3 linked regions of the Homo sapiens genome follow. The protein of the gene in region 3 purifies or fractionates together with the protein of the main gene of each other region. This does not show direct contact. Each region holds a gene or a part of one and is shown on either strand. Other genes may lie near its edges.

Region 1 (7,111 bases), on a different chromosome or scaffold from region 3:
AGAAAAAGAACACTTATTATACACTGTTGGTGGGAGTGTAAATTAGTTCAACCATTGTGGAAGACAGTGTGGCAATTCCTCAGACTTAAAAACAGAATCCCATTCAACCCAGCAATCCCATTACTGATTATATACCCAAAGGAATATAAATCATTCTATCATAAAGACACATACACGTGTAAGTGCATTGCAGCAATATTCACAATAGCAAAGACATGGAATCAACCTAAATGCCCATCAGTGGTAGTCTGGATAAAGAAAATATGGTACATATACACCATGAAATACTATGCAGCCATAAAAAGAATGAGATTATGTCCTTTGCAGGAACATGAATGGAGCTGGAGGCCACTATCCTAAGTGAATTAATGCAGAAACAGAAAACCAAATACTGGATGTTCTCACTTATAAGTGGGAGCTAAATGATGAGAACTTATGGACACATAGAGGGAAACAACACACACTGGAGGGTGAGAGGAGGGAAAGGATCAGGAAAAATAACTAATGGGTACTAGGCTTAATACCTGGCTATTGAAATAATCTGTACAACAAACTATGACAGAAATTTACCTATATAACAAACCTGCATACATACCCCTGAACTTAAAAGTTAAATTAAGGCTGGGCGCGGTGGCTCACGCCTGTAATCCCAACACTTTGGGAGGCCGAGGCGGGTGGATCATGAGGTCAGGAGATCAAGACCATCCTGGCTAACATGGTGAAACCCCGTCTCTACTAAAAATGCAAAAAATTAGCTGGGTGTGGTGGCAGGCGCCTGTAGTCCCAGCTACTCCGGAGGCTGAGGCAGGAGAATGGCGTGAACCTGGGAGGCAGAGCTTGCAGTGAGCCGAGATTGCACTACTGCACTCTAGCCTGGGCGATGGGGCGAGACTCTGTCTCAAAAAAAAAAAAAAGAAAAGAAAAAATCTCTCAATAATTTGTTTTCATGTATAAAACTTTGTTGCAGGATATCTGACAAAAATCGGTGAACTGTATGGTATGTGAATTTTATCTTAGTAAAGCTGTTTATAAAAATCAGAATAGTGGCTATTTGATAAAAAGGGTAGAAGAGAACTTTCTGGACATGCTGGGAAAGTTCTATATCTTGATCTAGGTAATGCCAACATAAATATATGTACATGTTAGTCTAAATAAATCAAGCCATCCATTTATAATTTGTGTACTTACTCTTATGACAATTATACCTCAATAAAATATGTTACTGTAAAAAAATTAAAAGGTAATTTCACATTTCTTTCCAAAGTGCTTTTAGCAATTTACATTCACAAGAATACTGTATTAAAATTCCCACGCTCAACATCTCCCAACTGTAATACCGATAATCAGATGGGCTAAACATGGAACTTTGCTGTGGTTTTAATTATCAGTCTCTTATTGCTAATGAGGATGGTCATATTTTTCTTTATTTCTGATATTCATGGTTCAGAAAAATGGTCTTTTTATACCATTTGCCCAATGTTTCACTGATTTGACATTTTCTTATCTCTTTCTTATCACATACATGTGTTATAATAATCTAGAATGGAGTCTTGTTCTTTCTCTTGTGATGGTATATTCCCATAATCTGGAAATTTATGGCATAGTCAAAACTAAAGATATTTAACCACAGAATTTATGGAGTGTTTTTCTCTTTTAAAATAAATGCTTTTCTGACACAAATTTTTAAGTTTTTATCCTATGTTGTATTCAATACTTAGAAGTGTGTGTGTGTGTGTGTGTGTGTGTGTGTGTGCACGTGTGTATTATGAGGTAGGAATCCAGTTTTATTTCAACATTTTTCTTTATTTTTCCATAGAGGTAATCTATTTTGTTTTTACCACTCAAGGATGCATAATTTCTGGATTCTTTTTTTCATTAATAATTTTTTTCTGGCCGGGTGTGGTGGCTCACGCCTGTAATCCCAGCACTTTGGGAGGCCGAGGCAGGCGGATCACCTGAGGTCAGGAGTTTGAGACCAGCCTGGCCAACATGGTGAAACCCCATCTCTACTAAAAATACAAAAATTAGCTGGGCATTGTGGTACGTGCCTGTAATCCCAGTTATCTGGGAGGCTGAGATGGGAAAATCGCTGGAACCCGGGAGGCCGAGGCGGCAGTGAGCTGAGATCGCACCACTGTACTCCAGTCTGGGTGACAGAGCAAGACTCCGTCTCAAAAATAAAGAAAAAATAATAATAATAATATTTTTTTCTACTCTTTTACCACTGATACACTGTCTTACTATTTATTGTTTTATAATGAACCTTAATGTCTACAAGGGCAAAAAGAATCGTTATTTAGATTCCTAGTAAACTAAAAGGTAAAATCGTGATATTTTTTAATAGCGAATATGTAAAGATGAGGATTTTTATCTTTAATTTCCTCAGATGCTTTGTATTGTGTCAAATTAGTCAAAAACAAGTTGAAACATGCATATTTTTATTTTCCAAATTAATGTATTCAGGCAAAAATTATTTGCCCTTAATAGCATATTATTTTACATTTCTGTTCACCATTCATCCAAACAATAATGACAATAGAAGTCCACAGGCAGCACCACAACACATTATGAATTTACTCTGACTTTCAATTTTGCATATTTTCAGTTTGTTTTTTTAACTTGACTCTTGATAATTGCGAATATGAAGTCAGAGAGGTTTGGAAAGACGATGCTTTCCATTGTGTTTTATTCTATTTTGAGGAGTCTTTGATATCTAAGAATGGGCATCCTCTTTGACTACATAGCTGCTTTCTAGCCATTAATTGGGTATCATGTTCTTAGTGGAATGAGAAAAACCTGGAAGAACCCTCGCCCAGATTTAAATAGGAGTGAATGCTTGCATTGTTTGAACACATTCACATATTTGAACATCTTTGAATGAGGGGGTTATCTCTAGTTATCTATTAATGATTTGTATTTACTAAATTTTATAGTTCTTTCTTGTTCTTCAACTGTTTTGAGTATTGAGAGTAAACTATGGAAATATGAATATAGTGTTAAGTTTTAAAAATGGTCCCATAAAACATTGAAATCTAGATAATTAAGACTTACCTCTATTTCTTTTCTTAATTTTTCATGTGTCTTTTTTTCTTCCTCAAGAAAACAAGTTTTTTCAATGATAGATTCTTTTACAGTTATAATTTTATCCTTTAAGTTTGTAATGTCTTCCTGTATGTTGACAACATTTGAAATATAGAAGTCAAAAAAGGATGATCAATATAAATCCAATTTTTCAGTGTTTCTATAATTTAAGAAAACTAGCCAAATCAAAATTTAGTTTTGATAAATAGCATTAGAATATTACTTCTATACGTATACAAAAATAAAGAACTGTTACTCAAAGAAACCTTACATTTGACACAGAACTAAAAACCAAATGAAAATAAGACAAAAAGGAAAGTGGTAGTTATGGTGGCAACTGCCGAACAACAGTGTAAAAGACACTTTTTAATTCTCTAGCAAGAAATGATCAATATTTTAAGTTTGTGTCTTCTATCGTCTTCAAAGAACAGTAAGAGAAATAGTAAGATGCTTAAGGTTCAGTTATTAATTTATATTGCTTGCATAACACCATTAAGTGTACTAAATTGATTTGAATTGGTCTGGATCCATTGGCATAGAAGCTAAGTCTTTAACATTTTTGTGAATTACATTTTCTACAACAAATGGATTAATTGTTCACTGTGATTTTATTTGACCATGTAGTTTTATAAATCTACAGGGGATTTGTGGATGTTTCCTTTATGCATTTGAGCATCTAGGGTCGTTGTTATATAACACATGTACTTATTCCAAGTTTTTTTCAATTATGAAAATAGTTTCTGAAGGTAATAGGACAGCTATGGGCATTTTATTAACTTCACAATAAATTTATCATTTAATGTATGTACTTGCAAAAAAGGAGTAATAGAAAAAATAGTTTTACTAAGTAATTTTGCACACCTGTACTTGTGTTATTCGGTTCCCTCCTGGATTTTGAAGATCTTGCATAAGTTCTTCTTTCATTGTCTTTAATTTTTTAACAAAATCTCGCTTTTCATGGAGTTCAGTCATAAATGACCATTTGCTCTCTACTTCCCCCAAACTATTTTTATGTGCTTTTATTTTTGCATAATATGCATTATATTTTATCATGTGTTCCTCAAAATCTTCTTGGGCTGTTTCTATGTCAAATTTAAGCTTTACATTTTCTGAATGTAAGGATTTGATTTGAGTTTCCAGGCTATCACAATGAAGTTTGGTATTCTCTATGGCAGAATCTTGTTGATAAATTTGTCTTTCTGTTTCTTTAGTTTCTGCAGAGATAGCTGCTATTTCTTTTTCAAGCTCATGAAGTTCATTCTGTAATACATTTTAACATTATCATTATTAATTCAAAATATTAAACATGAGAGGAAAATCAATGTTTTAATCCATAATGAATATAGGAAAAATCACTTATAAGAATATATTTATCAGATATTTAAAAATTAATGAATACAAGGAAACATGCAATAAACACAATTATTTTATAATTTCAGAAGGACCTCAGTTATATATTTTTTAATGTTCATCTAATTCTAAATATTAAAATCTCATTGTTTTATCTTGACATTTTATATATGTAAGATACTTTATAATAATTTTACTAATTTATTTATAGGCATCAGAAGTATACACTCAGGGAAGACAATATGATAAAAAATGATAAAGCCCTGAGTTAAGAATCAAAAGATCTAGGTCCAGCACACTTATTGCTATTTACTACTTCGTATGATCATGCATAACAAACTTAATTACCCCATTCAAACTACACTTTCTCCATTTGTAAAATGAGTATAAAGATATTTACTTTGCCTCCCTGGGGCATTTTGCATTGCTAACTGCTGCCTTCTTTTTAAAGCCTAGTTTTCACACCACCAGTCTTCTGGTTCTCCTTAGAAATTTCTGAGAATTCCTTCTCAATCTCAACAGTTCCTTCAAATATAGGTCTTCTGCAGATTTCAGTCATCATAATTTCCTCTTCTCACTCTCTATATATGCTCCTTGGGTAATTTCACCCAAATTTACATCTTCAGCTACATATCTGCCGATGATTCACAGAATATAAGTGGCTGCTGAGTTCTACACCCAGCTGCCAATGGCCACCTCTAATTCACTATATCCAAAAATTGAATGAATCCTTTCTACAACCTCAGCCTATTACTCCTTGTATCAATTATCTGTTGCCAGAATCACAAAACCTCAGTAGCATACAACAATACATAAGTATATATTGCTGACATGACTAGGAGCAGCTGAGGTTGGCTAGGTAGTTCATAAGCCTGGGAGAAGCAAGGGTTGGCTAGGTGGTTCTGCTGATCTTGATTGAATCTGCCCAAGTGTCTGGGGATTGGCTGATTGTAAGATGATTTAAATTGGCTTTAACTGGGCTGACAGGGGTGTCTTGGCTTTGCTTTATGTGTATCTTCTCCTCCAATGGGCCAACCCAGGCATGTCTTATGATAATAATAGATGCAGAAGAGTGAAATTCAGTTATGGAAGAGTTTTTTAAAGCTTTTGTTTCAGTCACAACTGATAACACCCCAGCTAGTTACATAATCAAACCCAGAGTCAAGGGGTGGAAGTGTGTCCATCCATTATGGGAAAGCATTGTAATGTATGGCAAAGGGTACGGATAGACTAACGGATGAAAAACTGGGACCAAAAATGCAAATGATCACACTCCTATGTTCCCCAACTTAGTTAATGTTACCACCTTAGCTCTTCCCTTCTTTTAAATAACTGTCTAAATGTTTCTCAAATTCTGTAGATCTTCCCACCAAAATAACTCTGTAGGCCATCCTCCATAGTCCTCTTCTTATCTACTATGGTCATTCTTTTTAAGTAAATTTGTAATGTTAGAGGGCATTGTTTTAAAAAATGCAAACTTCCTTGTATCCTTTTCCTGGCAGAGAAAAAGGAGGTAAGTTCACTGAAAAATACAATATGGCAATGAACCTCAATTTTTATCATCAGCTCTGATGTTTCAAATGCTCACTTGACATTTTTATATGTATGTTTACCAGACATCTCAACTATACATATTCAGAAAAAAAGTTTAATTTACACACCAAACATATTCCTCCCCCAGACTTTCTGATTTCAATAAACTGTACCACTTTCCACCTGGATACTCAAAAGCCTAGAAATCATTCTTGATTCTTCCCTTTCCCTTACCCCCACAACCTATTTCTCATCAAATCCTGATGGTTGGGCCTCCAAAATAAAATCCCCAATGCACTTCTGACCAGTCTTTGTAGTGTGACCTAATGTCTAACTCATCTCCCTATTTCCGTTCCTCCCCACTCCCCCAACTAGTCTGTGTATATCAGGCAGAAGAATCTTTTCAAAACATAAATCATATCATGTTATTTCCCTGCTCAACATCCTCCAGTGGTTTCCCATTGCATTAATAAAAAATTTCAAATTCCTGAAAGTGTTTTATAAGCCATATATGCCCTAGTGCCTATCTACTTTGCTATGCTTCTCATCTACTACTCTCCCTTTTTCCAGTCTCCTTTGTGTTGATTAAATATGTATAGTTCCTTCCGACCTAACGGCTTTTTAAATTATTGTTTGGTCTACTTTAAAATTCTCTACCCCTGGCTATTATCTGTTGGGTCTTTGTCTTTCACAATTCAGTATTATTATTATGTCTCAGAAGAGTCTTCCCTAAATCAAAATATAAATGAACCAACCACTATTCCACTCCTCCTCTAGTTACTCTCTACACATTACCCCATTGTATTTCCTTTGTAATACATCAATCTTTGAATTATCTTTATTTTGTTAATTTATTGCTTGCTTCCCCTGACTAGAAAGTAAGCTCTGTGGCTACAGGAACCATGTCTGTCTTCATTACCACCATCTTCCCACTGCTTAAAACAGTAACTGACACAAAGTAGGTGCTCAATAAATAAATAAATTCATTCAATAAATGAGTGAATGACTGATGCACAACCAATGGTCAGGAAAGGGACATATGCCCTGCTGGTTACATCAGGCTATCTATCAACTCTATTGGTCAATAGAAGAAGTATATTGACCCATACAATTTGGTTATCATCTCTTCTCTTTCTTGGACTAATGT
Region 2 (7,839 bases), on a different chromosome or scaffold from region 3:
GAAGAATATGGAACCTCTCTTTTCTACGTTTCCAAGTTTTCTGTAAAGATAACATTAATTCAAAAGAAAAAGTTTTTTTTGTTGTTGTTTCTTTTTTTGTGAGACAGATTTTCGCTCTTGTTGCCCAGGCTGGAGTGCAATGGCGCGATCTCTGCTCACTGCAACCTCCACCTCCCAGGTACAAGCAATTCTCCTGTCTCAGCCTCCCAAGTAGCTCGGATTACAGGCACGCGCCACCATGCCCGGCTGTTTTTCTTTTGTATTTAGTACAGATGGGGTTTCACCAAGTTAGTCAGGCTGGTCATGAACTCCTGACCTCAGGTGACCCACCCACCTCGGCCTCTCCTGCGCCTGGCCAAGAAAATGTTTTTAAAAAGAAGAGCGATCAGGATGTGATGACGTCGCTGTAAGGTATGAGAGAGAGAGTCAAGATTGACTCAAAGGTTCTTTCCTGAACAATTGTGGTGTCAGGATATCCATTGGTTTTCATCCACAGTTACTGGCACATGACTCCCATAGCCCTTGCTACAGTCCTTTGTTATATTGTTGTGTTGGGCCTCATGGGCAGGCCCCTGACCTCCTCCTGGCTTTCTGATTGTGGGTCTTTTTTTTTTTTATTTTATTTTTAGATGGAGTCTCATTCTGTTGCCCAGGCTGGAGTGCAGTGGTGCGACCTTGGCTCACTGTAACTTCTTCGCATCCCGGGTTCAAGCGGTTCTCCTGCCTCAGCTTCCCAAGTAGCTGGGACTATAAGTGTGTGCCACCACGCCCAGCTAATTTTTGTATTTTTAGTAAATATGGTGTTTCATCATGTTGGCCAGGATGGTCTCGATCTCCTGACCTTGTGATCCGCCCACCTCGGCCTCCCAAAGTGCTGGGATTACAGGAGTGAGCCACCGCGCCCTGCCGTCGATTGCAGGTCTTAAGACTCTCCCATGAGAGGGTCTCACCCTATTCCCTGGGAGAAGGAATGCTGATATCATGAAGCTTTCATAAAACCCCAAGAGGACAGGGTTCAGTGAACTTCTGGGTAGGTGAACAGTGGAGGTTCCTGGAGGGTGGTGCCCAGGGAGGTATGGAAGCTCTGCCCCTTCCTCCAAACCTTGCCCTATGTGTCTCTTCACCTGTGTCCTTTACAATATCCATTATAATAAACCAGTGGGCCAGGCATGGTGGCTCACGCCTGTAATCCCAGCACTTTGGGAGGCCAAAGCAGGCAGATCACCTGCGGTCAGGAGTTCGAGACCAGCTTGGCCAACAGGACGAAACCCTGTCTCTACTAAAAATATAAAAATCTAGCCAGGTGTGGTGGCGCATGCCTGTAGTGCCAGCTTCTTGGGAGGCTGAGGCATGACAATCACTTGAACCTGGTAGGCGGAGGTTGCAGTGAGCTGGGATCGCACCACTGCACTCTAGCCTGGGCGACAGAGCAACACTCCGTCTCAAAAATAAATAAATAAAAATAAACCAGTGAACATAAGCGTTTCTCTGAGTTCTGTGAGCCACTCACAGGTAGCAAATTAATCGAAACCAAACAGGGGGTCAGGGGGTCATGGGAACCCCAACTTGAAGCTGATCTGTCAGAAGTTCTGCAGAGGCCCGGCCTTGCAACTGATGTATGTGAGGAGTCTTGGGGACTGAGTCCTCAACTTGTGGGATCTGACACTCTCTCCAGGTAGTGACAGAACTGAATTAGAGGATGCCCAGCTGGTGTCTGCTGCTCAGTGTGTGGAGAAAACCCCACACACATTTAGTCATAGGTCTTCTGTGTTGACTGTTGTGCGGTGTGAGAGTGGAGAGTTTTCTCTACACGACAATAAAATTGGAATGTCTGGAGGTAGGATGCAGGCACTGGTGTTTTTAATTTTTAAGTAGTCAAAGTGGAGAACTCCTAGTCTTCCCACTTCTCTCTGATGAAGAACCACTACATTAACTCATTTAAATTCGGTATGCTCAACTGGGCACGGTGCCTCATGCCTGCAATCTCAGTACTTTGGGGGGCCAAAGTGGGAGGATCATTTTAGCCCAGGAGTTCAAGACCAGCCTGGGCAACATAGACCCCATCTCTACAAAAAATTAGTAAGTTAGCCAGGTGTGGGGGTGCATCTGTAATGCAGCTATTTGGGAGGCTGAGGTGGGAGGATCACTTGAGCCCAGGAGATCAAGGCTGCAGTGAGCTGTGATCACACCACCACACTCCAGCCTGGGTAACAGACTGAGATCCTGTCTCAAGAAATAAAATAACAAATAAATTCAGTACACTCCTGTGCAATGGGTAATTTTTACATTTCTATTTTGCAAATGAAACTGAGATCACAGATGTTACATGACTGGGTGATCCACAGTCAAACAGCTAGTAAGTGGCATGATTCACATCTTCTGACTCCAAATTCATTCTCCAGCCAGTGAGTGGGAGCCCGTGCAGAGCATCAGGAGCACTGAAGAGAAGACATTCTTCACAATGGCAGCCCCCATGGCTCTGAGCACCCCTGGGAATCCAGGGTTATAAACTGGAGTCATCGGGGTCTTGGCTGCGCATCCCACAGGGACCACCTTTGCACGGTGTGTCCTGCCATTGTGCCCCACACTGGTTGGGACAGGTCATGGGCATAGCAAAAGGTATCTGGGCACATTCAGCAGGTCAGAGAAACCTCCCAGCCTAGAACACACTATGAGCGTCTCTGAACCACTCCCTGTGTTTGCCTTTTGCTCTGCATGGGGTTTAGCACTTGCAGGCACTTGGAAATTTCACTCGCCCTTGGAAACTCCGTTCCCCCATAGCCTGTCTTTCATCCTGCTTCCTTCTCACCCCATTTTGCCTCTGATCCTCACATCCTCTAAAGTGGAGTTCCTACAAAGTATATGCACCTTTCTCATGCTACAGTGTACTGTAGCTCATTTTGTAATTCTGATATAACTCTCTGACATTTTTGTATATTTATGTTTTTATTTTTATTTTTTGGAGACAGAGTCTTGCTCTGTCGCCCAAGCTGGAGTCTAGTGGCAAGATCTCAGCTCACTGCAACCTCCGACTCCTGGGTTCATGCAATTCTTGTGCCTCAGCCTCACGAGTAGCTGGGACTACAGGCGCGCGTTAACCACAACTGGCTAATTTTTTTGTGTTTCAGTAGACACTGGGTTTCACCATGTTGGCCACGCTGGTCTCGAACTCCTGTCCTCAGGCAATCTGCCCACAGTGGCCTCCCAAACTACTGGGATTACAGGCATGAGTCACCGTGCCTGGCTGTATTTACTTTTTTTTTTCTTTTTTTGAAATGGAGTCTCACTCTGTCGCCCAAGCTGGAGTGCAGTGGCTTGATAACCACAACCTCCGCCTCCCAGATTCAAGCGATTCTCCTGTCTCAGCCTCCTGAGTAGCTGGGATTACAGGCATATGCCATCACGCCCGGCTAATTTTGTATTTTTAGTAGAGACGGGGTTTCTCCATGTTGGTCAGGCTGGTCTTGAACTCCCGACCTCAGGTGATCCGCCTGCCTCAGCCCCCCAAAGTGCTGGGATGACAGGCATGAGCCACTATGCCCGGCCGGGTATTTACGTTTTTAAATTGTTTTCTGTGTAAACTCTATAAGGGCCAGGGATTTTTTGCACCGCTGTTGGCAGCCCCTAGGACAATGCCTGGCCCTAGTAGGTGTTCGATAAATATATACAGGTTGAATATCCCTTAACCGAGATGCTTGGCACCAGAAGCATTTAGGATTTCAGATTTTGGAATATTTGCATTATACCAATTGAACACCCCTAATCTGAAAATCCAAAATTAGAAATGCTCCAATGAGGCCAGGTGCGGTGGCTCATGCCAGTAATCCCAGCACTATGGGAGGCCAAGGTGGGAGGATCACTTGAGGCCAGAAATTCCAGACCAGCCTGGGCAACATGGTGAAGCCTCCTCTCTTAAAAAAATACAGGCCGGGCGCGGTGGCTCACGCCTGTAATCCCAGCACTTTGGGAGGCCGAGGCGGTGGATCCATCCCTTGAGCCTAGGAGTTCGAGACCAGCCTGGGCAACACAGTGAGACTCTGTGCTAAAAATACAAAAATTAGCGGACATGGTGGCAGATGCCTGCAGTCCCAGCTACTGGGGGTTGGGACGCTGAGGCGGGAGGATCGCCATAGCCGGGAAAGTCGAGGCTGTAGTGAGCCATGACCGCGCCACTGCATCCCAGGCTGGGCAGCAGAAGTGACAGCCTTTCTCAAAAGAAAAGAAAGTTAAAAGAAGAAAAAAGAAGTGCTCCAATGTGCATTTCCTTTGAGCATCAGGTCAGCGCTCAAAAACTTTCAGATTTTGAAGCATTTCGGATTTCAGATGTTTGGATTAGGGATGCTCAACCCGTATTGATTTAATATGCGGTGGAAACGTGACGACCTAGGTTTTAAGTCGCGGTTTCCTCAGTGGTGGGTTTGGGGTATTACCCCTGCCTGGCCGGCCTCCGGGCTTGTTTCCAGAAGATGCTACCCCGAGAGCTGCGAACCGCCAAGCTCCGCAGCGCGCAGGGCTCCGACAGGGACCAGCGAGGTCAGCTCCAAGGGTCACCCCAGGCTCCAAACTGGCCAGAGCCGCCCTGAGATTTGCGGAGGCCGCCTTGCCCCCACCCCGCCCCGCAATCCCGGACCCGACCCGCCCCCTCTCCCGTTCGCTCGCCCCGCCCCCTGTTCGCCCACTGCGCCGGGACACCGAGGGGGCGGTGCCTCGAGGCCGGGAGGAGTGTTGCGTCGCGGCCTCCAGACACAAAGAGCGGCCGGCGGTACGGGGGTGGTGCCGCGCTCCTGGCCCCGCGCGGGCGGACGGCGGAGGCGCCTCCCAGGTGAGCCGGCCCGGGCGTCCGGCGGGACATTCAGGCGGCTGGTGGGGTCGAGAGTCCGGGGCCGCCCCTGCGTCGCGACCCGCGCCTTAGTCACCAGACCCGGCTCCGGGAGCGCGGCCTCGGGTGCTCCTCGCGGTGCGGGGCGCAGACTCGGCGCATCTGCTGTGGTGCCTGCTCTTCCGGTCGCCCTCGAGGGCGGGGCGGGGGTCACGCCCTAAAATACAGCGCCCGCTGGGCCGAACGCTTGAAAACCCGGTTTCCCGACGGCGGCGGCGCGGGCGCCGTGCGAACGAGGGCCCGGGTCCAGCACAGCCCCAAGGCTCGGCCTGAGGCGGGCGGCCTTGGCCGGGGCCCCCCGTGGTAATGAGCTACGCGGTGCCCGCCGCCTGCCCAGCGCGGGCCGTTTCTCCTGACGCCGCCGGCGTCTGGTCGAGGCCCAGGATTCCCTCCTGCCAGTGTGGCTGCGGCCCCCCACGGAGCGGGACCCGCGTTCGTGGCGCTTGGGACGGTTGATTGAAAGGGTGTAGAAGTCTGTTGCGAATTTTATCTGTTGTACTCGTTTTGCAGATTCGCCCCTTTCCTCCCGCCTGTGCGCGCAGTCACACACACCATGTGGGAGTCTCTGATCGCGTTGGGTTCATAATCATCGATCGTGCCTGGGTACTGATGCCCCATTGTTAGGAGCTCTGTGTGGGGCTGTATGTTTGCACAGGACTCACGTGAGGAAGGGTGGCCACGTTTCTTTCTGCTCTGTGAGACTTAGGCCAAGCCCTGGAACTAGGGAGGAGGTTCAGGAAGAGACCCATGAAGCTGGCGGGGCCTTGGAGAAGGGCAAGTGATTTTCAAGGTCAGTAGTAAGAGGGGTCATGAGTAATGGTAAGTTTCTTAGCGGCCTTTGCTGTGACTTCTAGGTTTTTCACACTGGACTTAAAATACTTTTAAAAGCAGAGTTTTTGTTCTTCTTGTTGTTGTTCTTGTTGTTGTTGCTGTTTTTGAAACGAAGTTTCACTCTTGTTGCCCAGGCTGGAGTGCAATGGCGCCATCTCGGCTCACTGCAACCTCTGCCTCCCGGATTCAAGCGATTCTCCTGCCTCAGCCTCCCGAGTAGCTGGGATTACACGCCCAGCTAATTTTTTGTGTTTTTAGTGGAGATGGGGGTTTCACCATGTTGGCCAGGCTGGTCTCGAACTTCTGACCTTCAGGTGATCCAGCTGCCTCGGCCTCCCAAAGTTCTGGGATTACAGGCGTGAGCCACTGCACCCGGCCAAGTTTTTGTTTTGTTTTGTTTTTGTTTTTTAATTTTATTTTACTTTAAGTTCTGGGATACATGTGCAGAACGTTCTGGTTTGTTACATGGGTATACATGTGCCATGATGGTTTGCTGCACCTATCAACCCGTCATCTAGATTTTAAGCCCCACATACATTAGGTATTTGTCCTAATGCTCTCCCTCCTCTTGCCCCCCACCCGCCCCGACAGGTCCCGATGTGTGAGGTGTGTGATGTTCCCCTCCCTGTGTCCATGTGTTCTCATTGTCAACTCCCACTTATGAGTGAGAACATGCGGTGTTTGGTTTTCTGTTCTTGTGTTAGTTTGCTGAGAATGATGGCTTCCCACTTTATGCATGTCCCTGCAAAGGACATGAACTCATTCTTTTTTATGGCTACGTAGTATTCCATGGTGTATCTGTACCACATTTTCTTTATTCAGTCTATCCGTGATGGGCATTTGGGTTGGTTCCAAGTCTTTGCTATTGTAAATAGTGCTGCAATAAACATACACGTTTATGTGTCTTTATAGTAGAATGATTTATAGTCCTTTGGGTATATACCCAGTAATGGGATCACCGGGTCAAATGTTATTTCTGGTTCTAGATCCTTGAGGAATCGCCACACTGTCTTCCACAATGGTTGAACTAATTTACACTCCCACCAACAGTGTAAAAGCGTTCCTATTCCTCCACAGCCTCTCCAGCATCTGTTGTTTCCTTGCTTTTTAATAATTACCATTCTAACTGATGTGAGATGGTATCTCATTGTGGTTTTGATTTGCATTTCTCTAATGACCAGTGATGATGAGCTTTTTTTTTAATATATGTTGTTGGCTGCATAAATGTCTTCTTTTGAGAAGTGTCTGTTCATTTCCTTTGGCCACTTTTTGATGGGGTTGTTTTTTTCTTGTAAATTTGTTTAAGTTCCTTCTATATTCTGGATATTAGACCTTTGTCAGAAGGGTAGATTGCAAAAATTTTACCCCGTTCTGTAGGTTGCCTGTTCACTCTGAAGAGTTTCTTTTGCTGTGGAGAAGCTCTTAGGTTAGATCCCATTTGTCAGTTTTGGCTTTTGTTGCCATTGCTTTTGGTGTTTAGTCATGAAGACTTTGCCCATGCCTATGTCCTGAATAGTATTGCCTAGGTTTTCTTTTAGGTTTTTTATGGTTTTGGGTTTTACATTTAAGTCTTTAATCCATCTTGAGTTAATTTTTGCATAAGGTGTAAGGAAGGAGTCCAGTTTCTGTTTACTGCATATGGCTAGCCAGTTTTCCCAGCACAATTTATTAAATAGGAAATCCTTTCCCCATTGCTTGTTTTTGTCAGGTTTGTCGAAGATCAGATAGTTGTAGAAAGCAGAGTTTGTTTTTTTTTTAAGTAGTTAAAACTCATCTGTTAAACAGAACACTGAATCAGCAGCCTAGCAGTTTTATGAACTGTGTGCAAGAATGCTTGTATATTAAAAGGAAAATGTTCAGGTGTTAGAGAAGCAGTCTACTTTCATGCTTGTCCCTTTTGTTTGACTTATACATCATCCATTAGTGGTTTAAATGATGACAGATTGAATTGATCTGTATTGGCAAATAAAAGTGGGATGTGTGTTTATGTAAAGTTCAGGTGCAATAAAAATTAGAGGATAACTCTTTTTTGTAGAATGAGAAAATAGCAAGCCTTCTCCAAGGAACTTGGACTTCAGATTTTTTCTTTTTAATGTAGAGCCGGGAGTCTTGCCCAGGGTGGTCTCCAA
Region 3 (7,111 bases):
AAAATAGTATAAATATAAAAATAGCTATGAAGTTAAAAATGGAGATTATTCAAAACCCAATGAAACTGGCTGACTAATCATAGTTATGGGCTAAAAGCTCAGTGGGCAAGGTCAGAATGAAGGAAGAAAGAGGAGAAAAGTCAAATGCCAGAAAATAACAGATGTGGTGGCACGAATTAGAAGTGGGAATGGAAGAGCAAACACTGACAGGTAAGAAGACAAATGGAAGCTAAACTGCTCTGGGAAGTCAACAGCTCTAATATCTGCTTAAAATTTGAACAACTTCTTTCTCCACCACCACCACCACCAAGAAGAGTTGCCACAAACCGTTTCATAGGTTAATTCTTTTGAACCCTGAAGGAATAGATAATTATAGTACGTACATTTTTCCAAGCAGAGAAAGAAAAAAGCGTCAGTATGCTTTTTGTGAAATCAACATAATACACACACAAAGATGAATCTCACATATACTGATGCAAAAATCTTAAAGAAGATGTTATCAAATAAAATTCAGTAATACATTAGAAGACTAAGAGTGCACAGCTAAGTAAGGTTAGTGATAGGATATATATAAATAAAATTTATTACATCAATAGATTACAGTTGGAAATATGAATGTCTCAAAAAGGAGATGTAGTGGGAGGGAGGGAAGAATGGTGGAGGATGCAACTAAACATAGAAAACCCAGTGAAATCAAGTTGTATCAGCTTCAACTAATGACAATTTTGTCTTTGTTTTCCAATATTTACTGTGTTTCTAATTTTACTGGCTGATACTTTTAGAACACTGTTATATAATAGTGATGATATTGGATACCCTCCCTTATTACTAACTTTTATGGAAATACTTCTAGAGTTTCATTGTTAATCATGATGTCAGAGTGAAGCTCTCCCTCTCCTTCTTCCTCTCCTTTCACCTCTCCTCCACCATTTTTCCCTCCTTCCCTCTACATCGCCTTTTTAAAAACAATCATATGCTTTTCCAACTGTAATCTATTAATGTAATGAATTTTATTAATAGATATCCCATTTCTGCTCTTCCTTCTGCTCAACTCCTTACAATTTGGCTTTTGCCCTGCTTATTACCTCAATCTGCTCCCTTTCCTGAAGGCCACCAATGACCTCTGATTGCTGCTTCTTAGTCCTTATTCTAGTTGACAGCTCAGCAGCAATCAACATGGGTTGATCATGCCTTCAAATACTCTCTCCCTAGGTGATGTCAACTCCACTCAGTAACGTGTTCTGCCCATCTTTCATGAAGCCGTCTTAGACTCTTCACTCAAGTTTTTGAAAATCCTGAGGTTCTGCAGGGTACTGTCCATTTTCTTTCAATACATTCTCTCTAGGTGAGTCCCAAAATTTAATAGCTCTAGCCCAGAACTATCTCTGAGCTCTTGACTTAAATTACAACTATCTAATTGACATCTACACTCAAATCTCTCACTTGGCTAATCAGTATCATTCTTCAGACCTCACTCTGAAGGCAACTTGTTCAGGGAAATCTTCCTTAACTTCCTAGTCCAGTTTAAGTCTACTTATATATGTTCTCATATCATCTTGTGCTTCTCCTTTTGAAGCAGTCATCAATTTATTATTATCTCATTCATACTGTTGGGGCCAGCACATTAATCAAAATAAAGTCCCTGCTATTAAAAAGATTAAAGTTTTATATGAAAATGTTATGAAATACCTAGAAACAGACTTTCTGAAAGAATAAAAAATCAACAATATCAGGTACTCTGAAAACAAATCTTTTAAAATAAATCCATATTTCTAGAAAAAGAGAACTAAACTAGAGGGCTCCAATAGCATCTGTGATATCAGGGACTTTTTTTTTTCTTAATTTTAAAGAGGAATAATTTACATAAAGTATATTCATTTAGAGCATACAATTTCATGACTTTTGACAGTCACTGACACCTATGAAACACCCACAGGCAAGAAACTGTACATTTCTATCAACCCAAAAGATTATTTGTGACCCTTCACAGTTCATTCATTTTGACCCAGGCAACCATTGATCTGCTTGCCATGGCTTTACGTTAGTTTGCATGTGTCTAGCTTCTTTTAATCATCATATTATTTTGAAATAGGTCCATGTAGTGCATCAGTAGAATTAGTCATTTTTATTGCCAAGTATTCCGTTGCATAGATATGTCAATTTTGTTTAACCATTTACTTCCTTTTTTTTTTTTTTTTTTTTGAGACGAAGTCTCACTCTGTCACCCAGGCTGGAGTGCAATGGCGCGATCTTGGCTCACTGCAACCTCCGCCTCCTGGGTTCAAGCCATTCTTCTGCCTCAGCCTCCTGAGTAGCTGGGATTACAGGTGCCCGACACCACGCCCGGCTAATTTTTTGGTTTTAGTAGAGACGGGGTTTCACTATGTTGGCCAGGCTGGTCTTGAACTCCTGACCTTGTGATCCGCCCACCTCGGCCTCCGAAACCATTCACTTCTTAACGGACATTTAAGTTATGTTCAATTTTTGACTACTGTGAATAAAACTGCCAAAACGTTAGGATATAGGTTTCATCTCTCTGGAGTATCTCATTGTGGAGTGGCTGGGCTGTATGGTAAATGTACATTTAGCTTGTTAAGAAACTGCAAAACAATTTTCTAAAGTGATTGTACCATTAATTTTACATTCCCATCACTACCATATGAGTATCAGATGCTCCACATTCTCAGCAACGTTTGGTATGGTCAGTCTTTTTAACTTTAATTAAGTGGATATACAGTGATATATCACTGCCGTTTTAATTTGTATTTTCCAAATGACTAAAGATATTGAGTATCTTTTCACATGTTCATTGGCCATTAGTACTCTATTGTGAAGTTCAACTTTTTTCCCTTTTATAATTGGCTTTTTGCCTTTCTTATTTTTTAAGTTGTTAGAGTTCATTATGTTCTGGATAACAGTACATTGGAAGATATATTTAATGCAAATATTCTCTCCAAGACTGTTGTCTGTCTTCTAATTTTCTTAAGTGTCTTTTCAATTTATTTTAAATCTGTTTTTCTTTTTACGGTTCATGATTCTTGTGTCCCATCTAAGAAATCATTGCCTATTCCAAGATGGAAAAGATTTTCTCCTATGTTTTCTTCTAGGAAATTCATAATTTTAGCTTTTGTGTCTAGGTGTATGCCTATTTTGAGTTAATTTATAATACGGTGTGAAGAGTTAAGGATCATTGTTTTGCAATGGATGTCCAATTCTTCTAGCACCACTTATTGAAAATACTTTCCTTTTCCCACTGAACTGCCTTTCCATCTTTGTTGAAAACCAGTTGACAATATGCATTTCTATTTCTGGACTCTTCTGTTCCAGCTATTTATATGCCTATTTTTAAGGCAGTGACACATTATCTTGATTACTATAGAATTTGAGTAAATTTTGAAATCACAGAATATAAATCCTTAAATTTTATTCTTTTTAAAATTGTTTTGATTTTGTAAGTCATTTGTATTTCCATATACAAAGGCATTGTTCTCATAGAAGATGATAGCTCCATGTCCCTGAAGACCTTCCAGTGGGACAAGATGTAGAGGTGGAAGACAGTGATATTGTGATACTGACTCTGTGTAAGCCTAATGTGCATGTTTGTGTTTTAGGTTTTTTTTTTTTTTTTTAGTTTCAAGTAAAAAAATAATTTCTAAGATAGAAGAAAGTTGTAGAATAAGGATACAAAGAAAAAAATTTTTTGTATATTCATACAACATGTGTTTTAAACTAAGTGTTATTAGAAGAGTCAAAAATAATAAAAGGTTTATAAAGTAAAAAAGTTACAGTAAGCTGAAGTTAATGTTAATTTACTTTGGAAGAAAAATTCTTTTTACAAACTTAGTGTAGCCTAAATACACAGTGTTTATAAAGTTTACAGTAGCATACAGTAATGTTCTAGGCCTCCACATTCACACACCATTCACTCACTGACTCGCCCAGAGCAACTTCCAGCTCTACAAGCTCCATTCATGGTAAATACCCTATAAAGGTGCCCTATAGAGATTTTTAAAATCATTTATACTGTATTTTTGCTGTACCTTTTCTAGATTTATATATGTTTAGGTAGACAAATACTTGCCATTGTGTTCCAACTGCCTACAGTCTTCAGTATAGTAACATTGAGTACAGGCTTACAGCCTAGGAGCAATAGGCTATACCATATAGCCCAGGTGTGTAATAGGTTATCCCATCCAGGTTTGTGTAAGTACAATCTATGATGTTCACACGATGATACTGACTAAGAATGCATTTCTCAGAACATATCCCCATTATTAAAGTGATGCATGATTGCAAATGGATTCAAGTGTATCATTTTATTATTAGTTTTCTGTCTGTTCTGTGTTTTTGTTCCCCTCTTTCCCTTTCCCACTTTCTTTCAGATTAAATGTGTATTTTAATTTCTATATTGTCCTTTTAGCTATTTGTTTTTGGATTATTTCCTTAATGGTTGTTCTGGAATTAAAATAAACAACTTTGGTAGCCTTACTACAAGATGCCCTCCCTGTCTTCATTCTCACCACTAAGAAATGTCTTGAGGGTAAAGAAAAAAATCCAATATTCTTAAGAAATCATAAAGACTAAATCTAGCATGTGAATTAAAAAGCCTTTCCTAAAACCTCAGAAAAATCCAAGGTGATGCCTCAGAGAACCATTCAGTCAAAGTATAGGGCCAAGAAGTTTAAGAATATTGTCTCAGTAGTTTTAGCAAAAGGCCAAAGTATAAAAGGGCTTATCTCAAAGAAATTTGTAGTTGTGGCTTTTCCCTAATGAAGTGAGCCTCAGTAGGATTCACGTGAGACCCACAAAGTTTTTAAGAGCACTGTATTTACATGAACACAGTGAGCTTGGACTGAAATGGACAGAGGCAGTAAAAAAAAGGAATGATACGCAACTTTTACAGAATGGAAGCAGGCACAGGACAATTGCAAATGCAAGCTATCTTTTATATATATTTTTTTAAAAAAAAAAAAAAAAACGAATGATCAGAGAAGGGAAATAGGAGCACAGAGAGTAGTGTCAAGAGTCATGGGGAATCATTCCCAGGAGGGAGGATGACTGAGTCCTAATCAAGGAATGTCCAATACTTGCCTGGCTCAATTTCAGAATTGCTATATAACAATGACTCCAGTTTTTCTGCTTTCTGAACAGAAGTATCACTAGTGATTATCCTATGCCTATCTCACCATAGTATATTGGGAATATGAAGGGCAACTGTTTCTTTGGCTGAGGTCTTCAGATCAAGAGGACATGTACTCAAGGAGTTACATAAGCAACTACATCCAAGGAGCCTCATGTGCAATTGAACCTAGTTTAGATGAGGAAATACTGGACATTAAGCTAATGCTATAATAGAATCTCTGAAGTTTGAAAACTGATTTATCCTTGACTTTCCCTACTTGGCAACTGCTTTAATTCAGGATCTTATCAAAGATTGCAATAACCCACATACTAGTTGTATTAGTCCATTCTTGCACTACTATAAAGAACTACCCGAGACTGGGTAATTTATTAAAAAAGAAGAAGAAGAAGAAGAGAGATTTACTTAGCTCATGGTTCTGGAAGCTATAGAGGGAGCATGGCTGGGGAGGCCTCAGAAAACTTAAAATCGTGGTGGAAGGCAGAGGGGAAGCAGGAACATCTTACATGGCCAGAGCAGGAAGAACAGAGAGAAGCAGGAGGTGCTACATACTTTTAAACAACCAAATCTCATGATAACTCACTCAATGTCATGAGAATAGCACCAAAGGGGAAACCTGCCCCCATGAGCCAATCACCTCCCACCAGGCCCAACCTCCAACATTAAGGATTACAATTTGACACGACATTTGCATGGGGACACAGACCCAAACCTTCACTAGTGTTCCTGAAATAAAACTCTCTCCACTCCACTGTGTAAACTTATTCCTAGCTTCTCCTGGATTGTTAGAGGATTAGGGCACCAATCCTAACCCCTACTGTAGCTTCCATCACAATGTGCTGTAAATGTCTGCTTACATATTTTCTTCCTCCACTTTTTATTGTTATATCTTCAAGACCTAGAACAGTGCCTATCACATAACAGATATTTATTTATTAAATGAATGACCAAATGTTCATGTCACATGTACTTCTAAATCATTTGAAACTGCTCACAATAGAAGATACATCTTCATTAAATCAATAAAAGTAAAAGAATCGCTATGCAATAACCCAATTTGCTCATGAAAAAGTTAAATTTTTGGAAAATTCATTCATTCAAAATAAGTTATTTTCATTAATGCAAGACAAATGAGGTGATATTTATTCATACCACTTTTCAACATGTTTGCTTGGTTTTCTAAGTCAGATATTTCAATCTTGACATTTTCTTTCATCAAAAGCTCTCTTTTCTTTGTTATTTCATAATCATTATTAAAGTCTGTAATTTCCTTAATAAATTTGTCTTCCTCCTCTATCATTTGTTTCTTTATAGCCTCCTGAAAAACATAAATAAAAGATCAAATATAGGTGTTAGTTGCAATAATATTTTTCCTTAATTATTTAAAATATAATAATTTGGAATTATTAACAATGAAAGTATATAGTTACACTTCCTGGTTTTATGGCAAAAATGTTTTTTTCTCATAGTAATATTAATAAAAAACTGAAGCTATTATATAGTAACAACTATCTTCAGATGAAAGATTTAATCTTAAAGTTTTGGGAGAATTATTGAGGTAGATATTCTACCACTCATCATTATATCTGTTTATTTGTGTATTAAAATTCAGAATCATATTACATTTTATAATTATAATATAAAACTGGAGAGTAAAGTAATTAAATGGCCAAACTGAAAAACTAAAATTTACACTTAAAGGGATTACTGCCTTACAGGAAAACAAACAAACAAACAAGGATAGCCAAGAAAACCTTTTAAAATGTGGATGATGAAATCAAAATTATATATTCACTTCAAAATCAGTTTTAAATAATAGTTTACATTTTATGAAGTATCAACATGGCAGAGAAATAAGAATTTCCAAAAACTGTGGACAATGCAAAAACCTAAACTCTTTGACAATGCTAGAATATAAACATTACCATATTTTTCTAAGCTATGTCAATGAATTTTAAGCCTCATTTTCAA

What was found.
Region 1: the proteins of CCDC172 (region 3) and CCDC122 purify together in Homo sapiens (affinity purification with mass spectrometry; 2 studies listed by BioGRID and IntAct, with this or other methods). This does not show direct contact.
Region 2: the proteins of CCDC172 (region 3) and NINL purify together in Homo sapiens (affinity purification with mass spectrometry; 2 studies listed by BioGRID and IntAct, with this or other methods). This does not show direct contact.

The regions. Positions count from the first base shown.
Region 1 is NC_000013.11:43,855,730-43,862,840, forward strand, and holds part of CCDC122 (coiled-coil domain-containing protein 122), read right to left. Parts: intron 4,342-7,111; coding exon 3,943-4,341; intron 3,169-3,942; coding exon 3,052-3,168; coding exon of another isoform or gene 3,004-3,051; exon of another isoform or gene 2,422-3,003; intron 1-2,421.
Region 2 is NC_000020.11:25,582,438-25,590,276, reverse strand, and holds the start of NINL (ninein-like protein), read left to right. Parts: upstream 1-4,745; 5' UTR 4,746-4,822; exon of another isoform or gene 4,823-5,626; coding exon of another isoform or gene 5,627-5,669; exon of another isoform or gene 5,670-5,688; coding exon of another isoform or gene 5,689-5,698; intron 5,699-7,839. UniProt on the Homo sapiens protein: Involved in the microtubule organization in interphase cells. Overexpression induces the fragmentation of the Golgi, and causes lysosomes to disperse toward the cell periphery; it also interferes with mitotic spindle assembly.
Region 3 is NC_000010.11:116,341,383-116,348,493, reverse strand, and holds part of CCDC172 (coiled-coil domain-containing protein 172), read right to left. Parts: intron 6,459-7,111; coding exon 6,293-6,458; intron 1-6,292.